Linked DNA regions of Homo sapiens: region 1 is linked to region 2. Evidence: fine-mapped expression QTL. A gene starts in region 2. The other region holds a variant in brackets. All regions are shown on one strand. Distances are between the middles of the regions.

Region 1 (2,908 bases), 120 kb before region 2:
GGATATTAGCCCTTTGTCAGATGAGTAGGTTGTGAAAATTTTCTCCCATTTTGTAGGTTGCCTGTCCGCTCTGATGGTAGTTTCTTTTGCTGTGCAGAAGCTCTTTAGTTTAATTAGATCCCATTTGTCAATTTTGTCTTTTGTTGCCATTGCTTTTGGTGTTTTGGACATGAAGTCCTTGCCCATGCCTATGTCCCGAATGGTAATGCCTAGGTTTTCTTCTAGGGTTTTTATGGTTTTAGGTCTAATGTTTAAATCTTTAATCCATCTTGAATTGATTTTTGTATAAGGTGTAAGGAAGGGATCCAGTTTCAGCCATATGTAGAAAGCTGAAACTGGATCCTCTCCTTTTCTTTGAGACAGGGGCTTGCTCTGTGCCCCAGGCTGGAGTATAGCGGCACAATTACGGCTCACTGCAACCTCGGCCTCCTGGGCTCACGTGATCGTCCCACTTCAGTCTCTCGAGTAGCTGGGACTACAGGGGACTACAGGTGTTCACCAACACACCAAGCTAAGAAGGCTAGCTTTTATCTTCCACACGTTTAAAATATACCTTTTTTAATTTTAATTTTTATTTTTTTGAGACAGCATCTTGTTCTGTTGCCCAGGCTGAAGTGCAGTGGTGCAATCTCGGCTCACTGCAGCCTCCGCCTCCCAGGTTCAAATGATTCTCATGCCTCACCTTCCCAAGTAGCTGAGATTATAAGCACGCCACCACACCTGGCTATTATTGTGTGTGTGCATTTTTATGGAGATGGGGTTTTGCCATGTTGGCCAGGCAGGTCTCAAACTCCTGGCCTCAAGTGATCTGCCCGCTTCGGCCTCCCAAAGTGCTGGGGTTACAGGCAGTGCCACCAACATATATATTTTTATGGGAACTTTAGAGAGATGGAATATTTAAAGAACTTTACATGTAAGAGGACTAAGATTCAAATAATGTTGCCACAGTTTAGTAGCTCCATGATCTTGGCTGGGTTATTTCACTTTTCTGGGATTCAGTTTCCTCAGTTGTAAAATAGCAACAGGCCAGGTGCAGTGGCTCACGCCTGTAATCCCAGCACTTTGG[A/G]AGGCTAAGGCAGGAGGATCTCTTGAAGCCAGGAGTTCAAGACCAGCCTAGGCAACAAAGTGAGAGACCCGTGCCATCCCCCCCCACACCGCCCCTGCCCTCTCTCTCTAAAAAAAGAAAGTTAGCCAGTGTAGTATGTGTATAGTGGTTAGCTGTGGAACACTGCATTCAGGCAGATCTGGGTTTCAATTCGGGCTCTGTTTCTGACCATCTGTTTGGCTTTGGGCAACTTATTTTACTTCCCAATCCTCAGTTTACTCCTTTTTACAGGAATAATAATAGTTCCTGCTTTGTAGGGTGATTGATTAATGAGGATTCCAGGAGACAAGGAATTAAAAGTGCCTGATACAGAGTAAACATTCAATACATTTAGTCATGATGAAAAACAAATAAATATCAAATGTCATGCTTCCCTATCCATTCTCCTCCAAAGACAGCAGTAGCAGAAACTCTCCTGATGAAGGGAGAGACTGAATCACGTAGCTAGAGAGCAAGCTTGAGGAGGGCAGGACCACCTTTGCCTGGTTTATCCTGTAGCCCCAACACCTAGCACAGTGTCCAGCACATAGAGCACTAGGAAGAAATCCTTTACAATGGTGCAAACAAGACAGAGATGCTCATAAATCATTCTACCTTTACAAGATATGCTTACGTTTCAGGTTTTCAGATTTGTTCCATTGCTGCCTTAATAGCTCCACCTGTTACTGAGCCAAACCTGGGTCCGCTCACCCTGCACACTAAAGACAAACACCCTCACCGAGGTTTGCAGTGAGGGAAAGGAGGGCATTTATTTACAGGACACCAAGGAATAAGAATTGGGCAGCTTGTGCTTAAGACTGCCTGCTGACTTACAGGCAAAGGTTTTTAAAGGCAGGGGTACACTTCAGGAAAGCAGAAGTGAAATCATAAATCAGCACATGGAGGTTAGAGATTGGTTTGGCCTAAAAAGATAGGATATCTTGAAGCAGGGGCTTACCGGTCATTGGGGGATTCAAAGATTCTCCGGTTAAGGAAGCAAAGCTTTGTCTAAAAACTTGGGGTCAGCAGAAAGGAATGTTGAGGTCTGGCCTCTGCATGTGACTCTTCAAGTCCCCTCAGGAAGAAATTTAGAACAAAGAATGGCACTGAGTCCTCACTTCTCCCTTACCTGAGGTCTATGTGCCAGTGAACGACATTTTCCATTTGGTGGGGGGTGTGAGTTTCTGAAAAACAACTCAGGGACATATGTGAAGATGTTATCTTTAGTTCTTCTTTTTTAGAGACAAGGTCTCCCTATGTTGCCCAGGCTGGTCTTGAACTCTTGAGCTCAAGGGATCCTCCTGCCTTAGCCTCCCAAAGTGTTAGGATTACAGGCATGAGCCACCATGCCCGACCTGTCTTTAGTTTCTATAGGGAACCGAACATCTTGTGGCTCTAACTTCCTTTGCTATTGTTTTCAGCAATTATTACCCTCTTGCTTATCAGGTTGCTTATTTACATCTCAGGGCTGGCTAGGTGTTTGGAATTTCCCTTGAAGGAACTCCAGATTTTCCTTTATTTCCATGCTTGGGGCAGGGTGGCAGTCCCCTAAGAAGAGTCTCTGCTCTGTCTCACACCCAGGAGGACATTCAGAAATGTCCAAATCTCCTCTTAAGTCTAGACCAGCGTTGTCCAATAGAAATGTAACTCAAGCCATATATAGAATTTTAAATGTTTTAGTAGCCACGTTAAGAAGGCAAAAAGAAACAGGTGAAATTAATTTCAATGTTGGATTTTATTTAACCCACCATACCCAGAATATCATTTCAACATGTAATCGATATAAAAACTATTAATAAAATACCTTATATTTTTTGTACTCAT
Region 2 (2,908 bases):
CCAAGATCAGATTTTTCTCCGTCTCTCCCTCTCAGACACACACACACACACACACACACAAACACACTGGGAAATAAAGGGTGGCTTGTGTGTGTTTGAGGGTAGGGCAGAATGGAGGACTGGATTCCTCTTTTAGGGACCTGAAGAAAAGTTTCCCAAAGCCTGGGGAAAGGTCATACACAAGAAAGAGGAAGTGTGTGTGGCCCTCACTACCCTACTATCCCTCTCCCATGTGGCTGCCTCTGTGGAATCCACCACATTTGCAGAGGCCTGCAGGGGCATGGGTGTGAAGCCCTCTCAGCAGGAAACACACCTGCATTCACACCCACACACATGTCCAGAAGCCAGTGGGTCACAGGGATGGGTCAGACTTGGATGCAGGAGCCCCCATTCGAAGCCAGATTAACGGTCCTCTACAGGTCCTCCAAGGAGGCCCCAAGCCCTCCAGAGCTACACAGAGCACCTTTTCAGCTGGGACGGCATTGCCAGGATTGCGTAAAGAAAGAATGTACTTCCCACTGTGGCAGTGGTGGTTGCACCATGAATCCAGAGCCACCCTGCAAGGGCATTCCCAGGACTTCTGACCGAGACATGTAGACGCTAGCTCCCTGCTAAGCTCACACAACCACGGTGCTCCAGTCTTTGCAAGTGGACACCACAGAGAAACACCAAAGGGAGGGGGCTCCCCAGGGACTGGGTCCATTTCTCAGCTCAGCCCAGTAGGCAGGGCCTTAAGGACAATCCCAGCAGACCAAGAGCTCAGATCTGGGCCACGAGTCTTCTTAGGAATAGGGACACAGATCCTGAGCACATCTACCAGTCCCCACTCCAGCTTGAACCCCCCAGTCCCCACTGTCGGCAAGCACACCGCTCTCAACATATTCCACACACATGAGCCCGTCACAGTCCCAAGAGTACTACACTGTACACAGCACATGTACACACAGCACACGGTTCCCCATGCCACACACTGCGCTGACACACGTCCCAGGTCCCCCCTGTGCCGACGCATCTTCCCATCCGACAGAGGACCCATTTTAATGAACGCGGTACACACAGACACTGAAAAGTCCTGCTGTCCTCAGCCTACATACACACACAGCGCCCTGCAGTCCCGCACAGCCAGCACACCACACCGGCCTGGACACAAACTGTGCCCACACAGAGCTCCCGACCAGAACTCAGCGACTCCCGCCCCCGCCGTGCGGCCTGCGCTCCCGCCCCCCGCGTACTAAGCCGATCTCCACCTTGGACTTCCCGGCCCCCTCTTTTCCCCTCCAGCTCCTGTTCCCCAACAACCCCACCCCCGGGCTTCGGGAAACTTTTCTTCAGGTCCCTAAAAGGGGACACCTGGAGTTCCTCCGGTCCCGCCCTGTCCCCGGACACGCGCAAGCCGCCCTTTATTTCCCAGCCCAGCTCCCGCCAGACCCAGCGGGGAAAGGTCACCGTAGGCAGCCCCCTGCCTGCGCCCTGGGGGTGGTGATAATAACAGCTGTCACCGGGGGATGGTCGGGGGGAAGGGAGAGGTGTCGGCCCCGCGCCGAGCCGGGGGCGCAAGGTGGTCGCGGTGACGCGCCGGGGAAGCGCAGAGAAGCAGCGGCGGCGGCGGCTGCGCCTTCCGAGCCCGGGCGGCGGCCGAGGCACGCGGAGCTGTCCGTTCAGCACCACCGCGCCGCGCCCCGCGCAGGGCGGGCGCCCCGTCACACCCGCTCTGCTCCCGCCCCGGCTCACGGGGCGAATGCGGCGCGGGTTCCTGCCTCTCTGGGTGGGTGAGGGGCGCGCGGATCCGGAGAGGGGGCTCCGGGAGCGGCGGGACCACGCAGCCACCTGTGAGCCTTCGGCAGCTGCGGGCGGCGGCGGCGTACCCGGCCCGAGACGGGAGGAGACGCTCGGCGGCCCCCGCCCGCCGGCCCGCCGGGCGCACACACTCGCACCCGCGCACGCACCGCCAGCAGGCAGCGGCCACCGCCGCGATGCTCGCCCGCGGGTTGGGGAAGTTTCCCGCCGGCCTCGGCCGCGGGCACCCGTGCTCCCAGGTAAGCGCTTCCAGAACGCGCAGGGCGAGCCCGGGCAGCCCCGCTGGGTGAGGCGCAGCGCACGCGGCCCCGGGGCATAGCGCCAGGCCGGCAGGGAGACCTGGGCCGGGGACGCGGGGGCTGCAGGCGTGGGATCTGGACCCAGGGGAGGCCGGGCCGCCCCCCTCATTCCCGCGGCCCGGGTTTCCAGACTCCAGCGCATCCCCCCCACCCCACCAAAGCTACGCGCCCCCCGTGTCGGCCCGGCCCTGCCCGTGCGTATCTCAGCTCCGGTCCCGCCTGTCTGCGGCGAGCGGGCGGGGGCGTCTCCCGGGCCTGCCCATGGACAAGGTCAGCATGCAGCCCCCTGGGCGCTCAGAGCCGCGGGGACGCGACCCCGCACGCGCAAAGCGCCCACCGAGACCCCTGGGGTGGAGCTGTGCTAATAGAAACATACCCACCCCCAGCCTTTCCTGGGAGGGGATCAGACCCCTCAAACTCTTGCCCCAGCCCAGCCCTTCAGCACCCAAGACCCACCAGGAGGCCTGGGCCCGCCAGTAATGGGTAGGGAGAGGGGGCCCCGCCAGGGCGCACGGCGCTCTCGCCGACGCTGTTCCCTCCGCTTCCAGGTGTAGCGCCCCCGCGCGGCGCGGGCGGCCGGCGCCTCCAGCATGACCGGCCAGAGCCTGTGGGACGTGTCGGAGGCTAACGTCGAGGACGGGGAGATCCGCATCAATGTGGGCGGCTTCAAGAGGAGGCTGCGCTCGCACACGCTGCTGCGCTTCCCCGAGACGCGCCTGGGCCGCTTGCTGCTCTGCCACTCGCGCGAGGCCATTCTGGAGCTCTGCGATGACTACGACGACGTCCAGCGGGAGTTCTACTTCGACCGCAAC

Direction of the effects. Alleles are on the strand shown, and positions count from the first base shown. SD is a standard deviation of normalised expression in the study named.
As copies of G replace A in region 1, the expression in fibroblasts of the gene that starts at base 1,665 in region 2 goes up (small effect, 0.21 SD a copy in GTEx).

The links.
Region 1: its variant is fine-mapped to the expression of KCNS2 in fibroblasts (GTEx, PIP 0.98).

The regions. Positions count from the first base shown.
Region 1 is chr8:98,308,044-98,310,951 of GRCh38, forward strand. No RefSeq gene overlaps it. Among named protein-coding and RNA genes, the nearest start is that of NIPAL2, 15 kb to the left of the region's middle. The variant A/G (reference allele first, on the strand shown) is at 1,067.
Region 2 is chr8:98,425,294-98,428,201 of GRCh38, forward strand. KCNS2 (potassium voltage-gated channel modifier subfamily S member 2) reads left to right here and starts at 1,665. Exons shown (of 2, transcript NM_020697.4): 1 at 1,665-2,036; 2 at 2,645-2,908. The coding sequence starts at 2,687. It also overlaps a transcript of STK3 not described here. RefSeq lists a silencer at 1,565-1,764.